4 separate regions of the Homo sapiens genome follow, and regions 1, 2 and 3 are each reported to be linked to region 4. Evidence: microRNA targets listed by miRTarBase, many of them from high-throughput screens and not tested one by one. Region 4 holds a microRNA gene; each other region holds the end of a gene's coding sequence. Distances are from middle to middle.

What was found. Region 4 holds the annotated microRNA hsa-miR-6769a-5p (AGGUGGGUAUGGAGGAGCCCU, at 1,773-1,793, shown strand). A microRNA usually pairs through its seed, bases 2 to 8, with sites in the 3' UTR of a target mRNA and lowers its output. Matches are read on the target gene's strand: a 7mer-m8 pairs with bases 2 to 8, a 7mer-A1 pairs with bases 2 to 7 and ends in A, and an 8mer does both.
Region 1: the mRNA of FOXRED2 is a reported target of hsa-miR-6769a-5p. Seed matches in the 3' UTR shown: 7mer-A1 at 2,799-2,805.
Region 2: the mRNA of HAPSTR1 is a reported target of hsa-miR-6769a-5p. Seed matches in the 3' UTR shown: 8mer at 2,462-2,469.
Region 3: miRTarBase lists HOXA7 as a target of hsa-miR-6769a-5p. Seed matches in the 3' UTR shown: 7mer-m8 at 390-396.

Annotation. Positions count from the first base shown.
Region 1 is chr22:36,487,114-36,490,210 of GRCh38, reverse strand. FOXRED2 (FAD dependent oxidoreductase domain containing 2) reads left to right here. Exons shown (of 9, transcript NM_001102371.2): 9 at 1-3,021. The coding sequence ends at 203. Among named protein-coding and RNA genes, the nearest start is that of TXN2, 7.0 kb to the right of the region's middle.
Region 2 is chr16:9,116,302-9,119,398 of GRCh38, reverse strand. HAPSTR1 (HUWE1 associated protein modifying stress responses) reads right to left here. Exons shown (of 4, transcript NM_014117.3): 4 at 1-2,731. The coding sequence ends at 2,487. Among named protein-coding and RNA genes, the nearest start is that of HAPSTR1, 26 kb to the right of the region's middle.
Region 3 is chr7:27,152,146-27,155,145 of GRCh38, reverse strand. It overlaps HOXA7 (homeobox A7), which reads left to right. Exons shown (of 2, transcript NM_006896.4): 2 at 1-1,430. The coding sequence ends at 237. HOXA3 (homeobox A3) reads left to right here and starts at 2,563. Exons shown (of 6, transcript NM_153631.3): 1 at 2,563-2,858. HOXA-AS3 (HOXA cluster antisense RNA 3) reads right to left here. Exons shown (of 3, transcript NR_038832.1): 3 at 1-2,852. RefSeq lists an enhancer at 43-627.
Region 4 is chr16:4,669,551-4,672,647 of GRCh38, forward strand. MIR6769A (microRNA 6769a) reads left to right here and starts at 1,768; the gene lies at 1,768-1,840. It overlaps MGRN1 (mahogunin ring finger 1), which reads left to right. Exons shown (of 17, transcript NM_015246.4): 9 at 1,841-1,909.

The DNA of each region.
Region 1 (3,097 bases), not on the chromosome of region 4:
GGTACCTGAGGATGCAGGGACTCGTGAGTACCGAGAGCCTTTGGCAGCACAGAGTGGAGAGCAGGCTCCTGCGGGACTATGCCCCCACAGGCAGGCGCCTGGAGGACAGCAGCCAGCAGCTTGGCGACCAAGAGCCACTAGGTTCCCCCCTGGCTCCAGGGCCTCTGGCTCAGTCCGTCGATAGCAACAAAGAGGAGCTCTGACTGTCCCTTCCTAAGCTGTGGGCACAGTGGCCAGGCCTCCCCACCTAGGCCCATGGTCAGTCCCTCTTTCCCCGCAACCTCACACTCCCGCCAATGCGTGATTGCCAAAGACCACTCAGATCATGGCAGTGTCTGCAGCAAAGCCACCAGATGGCACGTGAGGGCTGAAAGTCGGGGATGCGGTGGTCTCCTCCCTCCTGTCAGGGGGCAGAAGGGCATCCTCTGCCAGGTGGGAGCTGCCTTCCCCAGCCCAGTTTGTCTGCAATGGAGCTGTCGCTGAGCCCCAGGCCAGCCCAGTTCTGCCCCGTCTCAAGTGCTCCTCTTCCTTCCAAGCCCCTCCTCAGATGGGCCTGCATCCCGCCTGTGGAGTGCTTCACAGGGGAAACCCATCCGCATCTTAAGAGTTTGTGGCAAGCGCTTTAAAACAAAAGCTCTGATATCCTCAACAACCACAATGGGCAGGTGGGATTGTTGCCCCAGATGACTGCTGAAGACACCAGCTGTGGGATGTCAAGTAATTCCAGGGACCCCCAGCTGGGAGTCCCCGTCTGTGTCACTTGCCACACACTGCCTCAACCTCCCCGCCCCATTTTCAGCAGGGTTTGGGCTTAGCTACAGAGCCCAAGAGGGTCAGCCCTGCTTATCATCATAGGCCCAGCAGGCTGATCTCGAGCAGCGATAGGACAGCTCCCTGCAAAGCCATCTTAGCAACTTTCTCACTGAGAAGCAGGATTCAGAGCTGCTCTCCCCAGTTGCACCCCCTGACTCATCTTCCAGCTGGCTCTTCTCTCCCATCCTACTCCCTTCTGTCTCCCTGCCCTCTGCCATCCTGAACCATGCCTTGCTTCTAACCTGCCTGGTCAAGTTTTGTGAAACTTATCCTGCTGTCTCGGGCTGGCACCCATATGTGCTCACCATGTGTAAGGTGACATTTCCAAATGCCTTTGTGTGATAATGATGATGAATTTGGTTCCTAGTCTCTTCTTCATTGCCCTTCCTCACCAGCAATCTGCACTTTCCCATCAGGCGTCTTAGTCTCATTTGTAAGTGCATAAGATAATCACAGTGATTTTTCAAAGCCCAGGATCATAAGTGATTGCTTTTTCACTGGTTCTTACTAACTCTTCATGTATCCACTCAGAATTCCAAGGACAATCCCAGCACTCTGGGAGGCCCAGGCAGGTGGATCACCTGAGGTCAGGAGTTTGAGACCAGCCTGACCAACATGGAGAAACCCTATCTCTACTAAAAATACAAAACTAGCCAGGCGTGGTAGCACATGTCTATAATCCCAGCTACTGGAGAGGCTGAGGCAGGAGAATCACTTAAACCCGGGAGGCAGAGGTTGCAGTGAGCCGAGATTGCGCCATTGCACTCCAGCCTAGGTAACAAGAGGGAAACTCCATCTCAAAAAATAAGTTAATTAAATTAAATTAAAATAAAACATGCGCTGGGTACAGTTGCTTACACCTGTAATCCCAGCACTTTGGGAGGCCAAAGTGGGCCGATCACCTGAGCTCAGGAATTCGAGACCAGCCTGGCCAACATAGCAAAACCTTGTCTCTACTAACGGTAAAAAAAATTAGCTGGGCATGGTGGAGCATGCCTGTCATCCCAGCTACTTGGGAAGCTGAGGCAGGAGAATTGCTTGAACCTGGGAGGTGGAGGTTGCAGTGAGCAGAGACCGAGCCACTGTACTCCAGCCTAGGTGACAAAGCAAGACCCACAGTAAAGCCCCCACACCCCATCTCAAAAAAATAAAAAATAAAAAAGAACAAAGTATGCTACAACAAAAGTGAAAAGAGAAAAAGAATTCCAAGAACCCGGGCTTTCTGGATCCAAAGCTCTTTCATGGGGACGTCCTCTTCCCCTCTTGGCTTGGTCCAGACTTTTTCTTTTTCTTTTTTTTTTTTTTTGCAATGGATTTCGCTCTTGTCACCCAGGCTGGAGTGCAATGGCACGATGTCGGCTCACTGCAACTTCTGCCTCCCGGGTCTAAACAATTCTCTTCCCTCAACCTCCCAAGTAGCTGGGATTACAAGCGCCTGCCACCACGCCCAGCTAATTTTTGTATTTTTAGTAGAGACAGGGTTTCACCACATTGGCCAGGCTGGTCTCGAACTCCTGACCTCAGGTGATCCACCTGTCTTGGCCTCCTAAAGTGTTGGGATTACAGGCATGAGCCACCACGCTCGGCCCAGTCCAGACTTTTTAACTACCTGGCCCCACTGCAGACACAGTTCCCTCTAGTCCTTCCCAGAGTTACAAGAAGAGAACTCCAGTAGCCTTATTCTGTCAGGGACGAATTGTTTACCCCATGATAATGTAGGATATCATAAATTCTTCTTCAAAGGTTTTAGCCTGTAATTTGTTAAGTACATTGAGTTCTGAGATCCTCTCCAAAGAACCAATGTATCAGTATGTTCAGCTCACCTGTTCTTTGTTCTTCATTTTAACTTTTAATTTCCTCATTCTTTATGTCTCCTTGCCCCTAGTTTCAGTAAACAATCCCCTCCTAGCCTCTGTCACCTGCTCTGACCTGAGTCACCTTTAGTCACCTGGTCCGTAACCATCTTTCCTGTCTAAACTTCTCACCCCACCACTCTGGCTTATACCCCTGCTCTCTTTAAAATAGCCAGTCAGAATTAGCTTAGATTGTGCGGTCCAACCCTAGCCCATAGGGGAACAACACAGCAGTAGGGGGTACCTGCATCAGGGATAAGAACCCATTCCCCTCCCTTGTTCCGGTGTGCTCTCGCCATTGCACCATCCATGAGACGCACTCTTGTATAGAAGTAAAATTGCCTTGCTGAGAAAATGTATGTTTGAGTGCTATTTCTTTTGTGGCACTGAAAATTTATTTCTAACAAATTTGGGGTCTCATTTGGGATTCC
Region 2 (3,097 bases), 4.4 Mb from region 4:
CTAAACTGTCTAGTTTTTAAATCCACCCTTAACCGTTCAAGAAACTGAAAAAGTCAACTTGTTTTTAAAATACCACACAGGTATGCAATCTTCCATGATTTGTTTTGCATCTCAGCTAGCACAGGGAAACCCTTGAAAAACCTAGCTGTCAGAAGTTTTTCCTGAGGGAAATCATTACGCTTCTACTGCTGAGCTTCATGTTTATTCTGTGCGTCGGGGAAAGGAGAAAGCAATGGGACAGAGAAGGGAAAAGTTGCGACTGGGTGACAAATTCATTAGGTGCATTTGAAAGTAAACGCAATGGAAAAAAGTAACAAATGCTAAAGTTTTCTAAAAGTTTAATGAAGCCAATAAGGCATATAAATTGTGTTCTGGCAGACATTAAGACCTGCTTTCTCTTACCAAAGAAAATGGCACGTTTTATCAAAATTTGACAATTCAGAGTAAAGGGTACTGAGATTAAGCTTCAGAGCACCAACTTAAACAAAACAACCAAAAAATTGTTATCCAACGTGGAAAGAGGAGCAAGAACCAAGGCATAAAGGGGAATTAAATATGTGTTCCTCCATCTCAAAATCCTTTTAGGAATAGGAGTTCTGGCCACTTGTGAGCAACACATTGCACCACCAAACCCCAATTCCAGAATCTAAATTTACGATAGAAAAACAAAGGTAACTCCAAACGCATGTCTTGTATATTCCAAAGGGAAGCTTGAAAGTATTCATAATACATAGGCTTGTCTGTTTCAGGTAAAATGACAGATTGCTATAATTCTTCCTGCTATTATAGTCAAACAAAAAATGACCCACTTTCGCAAAAGTTTAGAAATCTCTCACTTTCATTCCTAGTTTTAGTATGGAATTCACTTTTTTAAATAAGGGCTACATCTATAATGAATACAGAACTTCAATTCACACAACATTTCTAACATTCCATTCACATCCCACCCAGTCAATGAATGAACATTTATGGTTAACTCAGCAAAGTTTCTTCACAGAAAGATATTATTAAATGGCTGAAGAAATTGCAAACTTTAACAAAGTGCTGTGAGTAATTACTGGAAAAACCCTTACACTGATTTGCAATGGTCTTTTAAGGATAAAAATAGGAAGTAACTGATACTGGACTACAAGTTTGCAAGGAAACATTTTTCACTGTCCTACTTGATATATAATATAATAATATGATAGAATAAATTACAGTACCTGGCAGGCTGACATCAGTTCTTCATCTAAAAAAACACTATCATTCAGTTCAGGATATTAAAAATGAAGATGAAACATGCTCTAAAACATTGTAGCTACAAGAGGTCTTATATTTACTCAAAAGAGGAATCTATTGAGAACTTTTTATTTAGGTCTACCTAACAGCTAGAGAATCTCCATGCGATTCCATCTTTTCCAGAATGAGATTCCAAACTGAACTTTTTAGGAGAGGGATTGGAGGGACAGGGAGAGTTGGGTTTTGCTATTTTAAGTTGCAATCACATTATTAGTAGATAAAAAAGAGAGCTTTATCATCTTCCACCCATTCCAATGGAAACTGCACTAAGCAGGGACTCCATGAAAAATGTAAAATGATAGACTAGAAAACCTACCCCACCATCCATCTCCCTCTCCCTCTCACTAATACTGAACCAAAAAGGAAGCCCATTCTCAAAGTTCATGACCTCTCTACTTTAGGTCACCTCGAATGCAGTCTACATGTTTACATTTACCATAAGGAAAGTACCCCGCATGGGAAGTAGTGTTTGTCTTAAAACTGAGTACTTTAGGCCTACAGGGTTACTCTGGGGACAGTTTAATAATAATACTGCTACTTTAGAGCACTAACACACACAAAGTGAATCCAATAAAGCTCTGGGCATTGATTCAATATTTAGTATTAATTGCATGACCATCATAGCACCTCTTTACATCACACAATCACCAGAATTAGAAATTGATTTGAAAACTAAAAACAGGGCACAGTCCAATAATTAGAATTGCACACTGTTACTATATAGAAACCAGGTGCATGGTACAGTGCAGCTGCAAAAATGGAAGCCAAATCATGTTTTTAGACAATTTTAGGAACCTGGCAATACTGTTGAAGCAAAATACTCAACACAGCAGGAAATGGACCCAAAAAAAAAAAAAGCATTCTATAACCAAATAAACATCTGATATTTCCTTTCCCTTTGAGAATAAATACAGTTAAGGTCACTTTTAGCCTTGGAACGGATATATGTTTGCCTATGATGATCTTGCTAACGACTACACAATATCTGATGTCCTCTGCTAGGATTATAGTTTTAAGAAAGCCATAATTACAAGAGGCATCTACTATAAATACCTAGAACTTCCTTTTATGGCAACCACTATAGAATTCACTTGTCTTAAACAGTGAACAAGGGAAGATGGCCTCATGTTTCCTTTGCAATTATAGTATATGTTGAGGATCAAGTGGCTTTCAAGCAGCATGGTGGGTGTGAAAATGTTTGCAGTTTAGATCATTCTGTTGCGTTTATGGGTTGGTGAGTCTGTAATGACATCGCCACACTGGGCTGAGGTACGCTTTCTAGTTCCACCATTGTCCAAGTGGAGTGCCATTTCTTCTGATATGAAAGTGTTCAAATCGACATCATGGAGTCCATTTCTCCTTCGACTAGCATTCGATCCACTGCTTACATGTGTAGGAGAGCCTGGGGTACTCGAACGCACGCTTATACTAGCCATTGCACCACTAAGACCTAGGAAGAAGAAAAAAGGTTTTAGAGTTGCTCAATTATGTAACCCTTTTGAAAGCAACCCACTTACTTTCCATGTTGTCACAATGTCAAAGCATGTCTGCCTATTTCCTTTATAAGGGATTACTAGTAAGCAATTAAGTTTTATTCTGGATAAACATATCATCTGGCCTTGACATATATTTTATTGGTAATACTACCAATATCTACAATATTGGTAACTACCAATTACTAAAAGTTACTACGTGTCAACCACCGTGCTAGGTGTACAAATATCTCATTAAATTCTCCCATCTATGAGGTAGGTACTGCACAAAATTTACAGATAAGGACAGGAGACATTTGCTTTAAAGACAAGACATTTTTGGT
Region 3 (3,000 bases), not on the chromosome of region 4:
CGCTACCTGACGCGGCGCCGCCGCATTGAAATCGCCCACGCGCTCTGCCTCACCGAGCGCCAGATTAAGATCTGGTTCCAGAACCGCCGCATGAAGTGGAAGAAAGAGCATAAGGACGAAGGTCCGACTGCCGCCGCAGCTCCCGAGGGCGCCGTGCCCTCTGCCGCCGCCACTGCTGCCGCGGACAAGGCCGACGAGGAGGACGATGATGAAGAAGAGGAAGACGAGGAGGAATGAGGGGCCGATCCGGGGCCCTCTCTGCACCGGACAGTCGGAAAAGCGTCTTTAAGAGACTCACTGGTTTTACTTACAAAAATGGGAAAAATAAAAGAAAATGTAAAAAACAAAAACAAAAACAAAAAAGCAACCCAGTCCCCAACCTGCACTCTACCCACCCCCATCACCTACTCCAGCTCCCAACTTTTGTGGACTGAGCGGCCGCAGAGACTGGGTCGCCTTGGATTCCCTCTGCCTCCGAGGACCCCAAAAGACACCCCCAACCCCAGGCCAGCCGGCCCTGCTCTGGCGCGTCCAAAATACTACCTAGCACAGGCCTCTGCTCGAGGCACCCCCAAACTACCTATGTATCCAGCCCCAGAGGGCCTCCATTCCCAGGAAGTCCCTATGTATCCCAACACTGGCAGACACCCAGCACCACCCTCCCAGACCCGCAAGAAAGTGAATCTCACTACTACCTACTCCCCTAAAACTACCTATTTTGTGCTGGCTGGCTTGCCTGCTACCTAGTGCCGACTGCTCCCAGGCAAGTCCCCTGCTGCTTACAGCCCGCAGCTTTTGGGGTCCCTGAGGCTGCCCTGAGAATGTGCTGAGGTCCAGGATCAGGGTATTGGCATCTATTTAAATCGAAAAATAATATATTTATTCCAAAAAGCATCCTAAGTGCTTGCACCCTAGAATCAATCCCTCCTTCTCTGGCTTGGCACCCACAGCTCAGGCCCATCAACCCCCACTTCTGGAGGGGAATGTTCCTGAGCTGGCTGCAGATCTGTGGGTTAGCTTCTGCTTAGCAGGACTGTGGAGATGCTTCCAGCTTCGCTGTCCTTTCCTCTGGCTCCTGTATCTTACTGTTCAGCTGTGTTAAATATGTACGCCCTGATGTTTCCTATAATAGCAGATACTGTATATTTGAACAAGATTTTTTTTTATCATTTCTATAGTCTTGGAGTTCATTTGTAAGGCAGTGTCTTGACTTGGAAAGGATGTGTTAATGGGGTGACTTTGTAGCATGGTATGTTGTCTTGAGTTAACTGTAGTGGGTGGGGAGGTCCAATGCCCTCCGCAATGCCCTTCATCTCCTGTGTTGTCCTGTACCCTGCTCAGCTCCATCCTGGGGTTCAGGGAAGGCACACTTCCCAGCCCAGCTGTGTTTTATGTAACCGAAAATAAAGATGCGTGGTGACAAAGAAAAATGTGGACTGCCTTATCCAGAGGGGACTGGGAAAGGGGAGGTGAGTATGGCTGGAGGGCAGGGGGCAGTGGGGAAGCAAAAGTGGGGTGGCTGTCCTTGTGATGGTCCAAGTGTTGGGTACCCATGTATTGGTGTCATGTATCTTTTTAATGTATTTTTATGTGTGTATTTGTATGAGTATGTGCTTATTTTTCTGTGTATGTATTTCTGTGTGTGTGTTTTTACCTAATTCCACAATTGTATATATTTTGGTGTCCATAATTGGGTGCATGTGTTTTTGTGTGTCCATAATTGCATGTCATTCTGTGCCCACAATAGAGTGTATGCCCTTCCCTGTGTGCATAATTGTATATGTGCCTTTATCCGTGTAGAGACGTTTGTCTGGTTTTTGCGTGTGCACTAACATCTTCTAGATCCCTTGAAAACGGAATCTTTGGTAGATACGTTATATTCTATGAATCTACCTAAAAACCTCCATCAATTCCATGAGGAAATTTCAAATCCACACTTTCCTCTAAGGCTGAGCAGTGGGCTTGGAAAGGGGCATTACCCAGAGCTGATTCCGGATTCGCATGCGCCCTGAACCCAGCCCCAGGCTAGGAAATGGGATTTAAGGTCCCCACCCCGCCTGCAGACCAGGCGAGGGGGCCCCAGGGTCCGGCACTGCAGTAGGTGGCGCGGGGAGGGGCTAGGACCGCAGACCCCCGCTAGGCTACGCAGCCTGGGCAGGGGCTGGGGCAGCTGGATGCGGGGAAGGGGCGAGGGGTGAAGGTCCAGGGGTTGTGCGGGCAGCTCAGAGCATCCTGAGTTCCGCCTGCAAGACCTCGTCTCCAGTCTCCTGCCTGGGCTGGGCCCGCTTCTTATGGCTCTTTTAGTAAAACCTGGCCCAAAAGGGTCTGTAAAACCTGAGGCCCCAAGTCGGGGCGGCCTCGGTGGTAAGATGGCGCCGGTGTAAGAGCTGCCTCCTCTCAGTGATGGGGAAAGGGTCATAAATCCGTTGTTGTTTATGAAAATTTACAACTTTGCAATACAACTTTATGAGTTGTTCGGCCCTTCCATTGGCCGCTGTCGGTCATGTGGATGAGAACCGTGAACATGAACTTTTTTATAATTTCCCTTGCGAGAATAGAGCCGCATTCTTTTGCTCCGCTCCGTCCTGCCTGCTTCGGAGCTCTGCCTTCCAGCCGGGCTCGGCTGTGCTTTGTCCGGAGATGGCGAGCGAAGGGAAGCCCCGGCCAGGCCAGGCCTGGCGGCTCCCGCTGGAGATTGGGCGCGCTCCGTTCCCGGCGCCGCGGCAGCAGCTTTGCAACTCGCAACCTGGCTAATTTCCTGCGTCCTCTGGCACCAGGAAAGAGGACAATTCTTCTCTCGGGCTGCCCAAGCGACAGCTGTCAGAGGGGCAGGAGCTTCTGGGAGCCACCGTCTGAAGGTGAGACATGTGGGGAGGAGATAGGAGCAAAGGTGGTGAGGCGACAGCCGGCGGCGGTAGCGGTGGGAGAGGGCACCCAGGGAGGCTTTAAGAGGGGCATACTCCCCCTTACCCATACTCACCCATTCACACTTGCCCCCAT
Region 4 (3,097 bases):
GGGACGCCTGCAGGCCCTGAGTTCTGTCCAGTTTGAGCCATTGTGTCTGGAACATAGTGTTAAGTAAATATTTGCCGAATGGATGGATGGAAAAGGAAGGAAAGAGACCAGAAACAAAGTCTGCAACTCCTTCTCCTCTTCCTTACAAATTGTCCAATATGTCAGTATTGGACAGAGACTTAGCTTGACTTCATCAATACTTGAAAAGAAGGATTAAATAGTTGAGAATAAATGGAGCTATAGAGCAGTACATCTGTTCTCTGGGGTCAGCGATCCTGGGATGCTGCATTGGGAAGTGTTATTCCTGGTGGCCTCACAAGTAGGCACCGAGAATTTAGAGGATGGGGTGCCCTAAACAGCAGTGTTAGATCTTGCTAATGAGATGTCCTAGGCCACAGCTAACAGTTACTCCGTGTGTACTGTTGGGGCGCATAAGACCTGTTTCAAGCCACCACTTGGGAATGATTTTTGTTAGTTTTTAATTTTTTAAATATTTAATTTAATTTTAATTTTAATTTTATTTTATTGAGACAAGACAGAGTCTCGCTCTGTTGCCCAGGCTGGAATGCAGTGGCGCGATCTCAGCTCACTTCAACCTCTGTCTCCCAGGTTCAAGTGATTTCTCGTTCAGGCTCCCAAGTAGCTGGGACTGCAGGTGTGCGCCACCACAGTTGGTTAATTTGTTTTGTTTTATTTTGTTTTGTATTTTTGAGATGGAGTCTCACTCTGTCGCCGAGGCTGGAGTGCAGTGGCATGATCCCAGCTTACTGTAGCCTCCACCTCCTGGGTTCAAGTGATTCTTCTGCCTCAGCATCCCGAGTAGCTGGGACTACAGGCACGCGCCACCATGCCTGGCTAATTTTTGTATTTTTTGTAGAGATGAGGTTTTGCCATGTTGGCCAAGCTGGTCTCAAACTTTTGGGCTCAAGTGATCCACCAGCCTCGGCCTCCTACTAAAGTGCTGGGATGATAGGTGTAAGCCACTGCACCCGGCCATCTGTTAGCTTTTTAGAAGAGAGTTTGTCCAGGTGCAGTGGCTTATGCCTATGATCCCAGCACTATGGGAGGTGGAGGCAGGAGGATTGCTTGAGCCTGGGGATTCCAGACCAGCCTGGGCAATGTAGCGAGATCCTGTCTATTTAAAATGTAAATCACAATAAACAAAAGAGAGGTGCAGCAAACTCTAGCAGGTCCAGGTCCCTGCAGGTACCAGGGGAACAGGAGACCCCAGTGATGGTCAGGGCCTTGTGTTGAGAGAGCTGACCAGCAGGCCCTGGGCTCCCTGGAGTGGTGCTCCTGGCCCATGGTCTCTGGGAAACCCAGCAGCACAAACCGCTTTGCAATGTGGTCAGCGTGAGGCTTTTTGGTTGCAAGTGGGTGGCAGGACAGAATCAGCTTGGAGACATTGCTTTGGCGTCTTTGAAACCAGAGAGGCTTCATGCCTTTTGGAAGGAGGATCTGGAAAGCAGTGGGAACTTAGGCTGCTGTCTGGTGCCTTCAGGCGTCAGCTCCTGCTTTCCTCGTGGGGCTGGTGGTGGTGGAGCCAAGTGGTGTTGGGGGTGGTGAGGCGGTCAGGGGGTGGTGGTTGGGCCTGTGGGTTGGCTTCAGGCCCCCAGTAGTGGGGAGAGCCACCGGCTCCAGCCCTGTTCCAGGTGCTGCTGGTTGGGTGGGGGCAAGCAGCAGGTTTTCCCTGCCCTTCTCCTGGCCCCCAGGGGTTGAGCTGGACTGACCCCTGGTATGGAAGCCTGGTAAGTTGGAGGCAGGGCTAGGCCAGGTGGGTATGGAGGAGCCCTCATATGGCAGTTGGCGAGGGCCCAGTGAGCCCCTCTCTGCTCTCCAGGTGGACCGGGTCAGCTACCTCCTGCAGGAGATCTATGGCATTGAGAACAAGAACAACCAGGAGACCAAGGTGTGTATCTGGGTGAGGTTTCCCTCTGCCATTACAGAAGCCCACACCAGGAGCAGCCGCGGACAGCAATGCTTGCCGGTTCCCTTCCATGCCTTCCCCTGGAGTCCTAGACCCGCTAGACAACATCATTTTTCCTTAATTTTTTTTAAAGCTAACAGTTTAGGGAACATTTTATCCTTTCTCCAGCAAATTCACTAGCTTCTGATGTAAATTGCCATCCAGGTTCCCCAGGGCAGCCCAGGAATGGGGGCCAGTGTCTCACCCTCTAGGCTCAGGTGTGTGGCACCCTGCTGCCCGGCTCCTGCCCGCCTCCCCAGAGACAGCACGTCCCTGCAGCTCCTGGGGGAGGGATGCTTATTCTGTATGTCCATAGAACCAGTCCTGGTGCCTGACAAATAAGCCGTGGTGTACCCCAGTCAGGGAATGTAGCAGGGGATGAAATTAGTTTTTTTTGTTTTTGTTTTTTGAGTCAGTCTCACTCTGCTGCTCAGGCTGTAATGCAGCAGGGAGATCTTGGCTCACTGTGGCCTCCGCCTCCCGGGTTCAAGCGATTCTCCTGCCTCAGCCTCCTGAGTAGCTGGGACCACAGGCACGCGCCACCACACCCGGCTAATTTTTTGTATTTTAGTAGCGACGGGGTTTCACCATGTTGGCCAGGATGGTCTTGATCTCCTGACCTTGTGATCCACCCTCCTCGGCCTCCCAAAGTGCTGGGATTACAGGCGTGAACCACCGCGCCCAGCCTAATTTTTAATTTTTGTATTTTTAGTAGAGATGGGGTTTCACTATGTTGGCCAGGCTGGTCTCAAACTTCTGATCTCAAGTGATCTGCCTGCCTCAGCCTCCCAAAGTGCTGGGATTTCAGGCCTGAGACCACCACGCCTGGTCGATGAACTTGTTAAAAGGCACACTGACATGAGTGAAACTCCTGCCTCTTAAGATCTCTTGGAAAGTCTCACAGGCCCGCTTCATTATGGCATCTGGGCCCAGGACAACTGGAGCAGCTCCACGTGGCGGGAGCGGAGCACCTGGCCGGGCCTCGCCTCAACCCAGGGAAGTCAGTGCATTCATGTTTCATACCAGGGGGCGGCCCACTTTGAGAAAAGGTTCAGAGAGGGAATGTTTTCAGCCGCCCGGGCATATGGTCTCTGTTGCACTGACTCCACGCTGCCATTACAACAGGAGCAG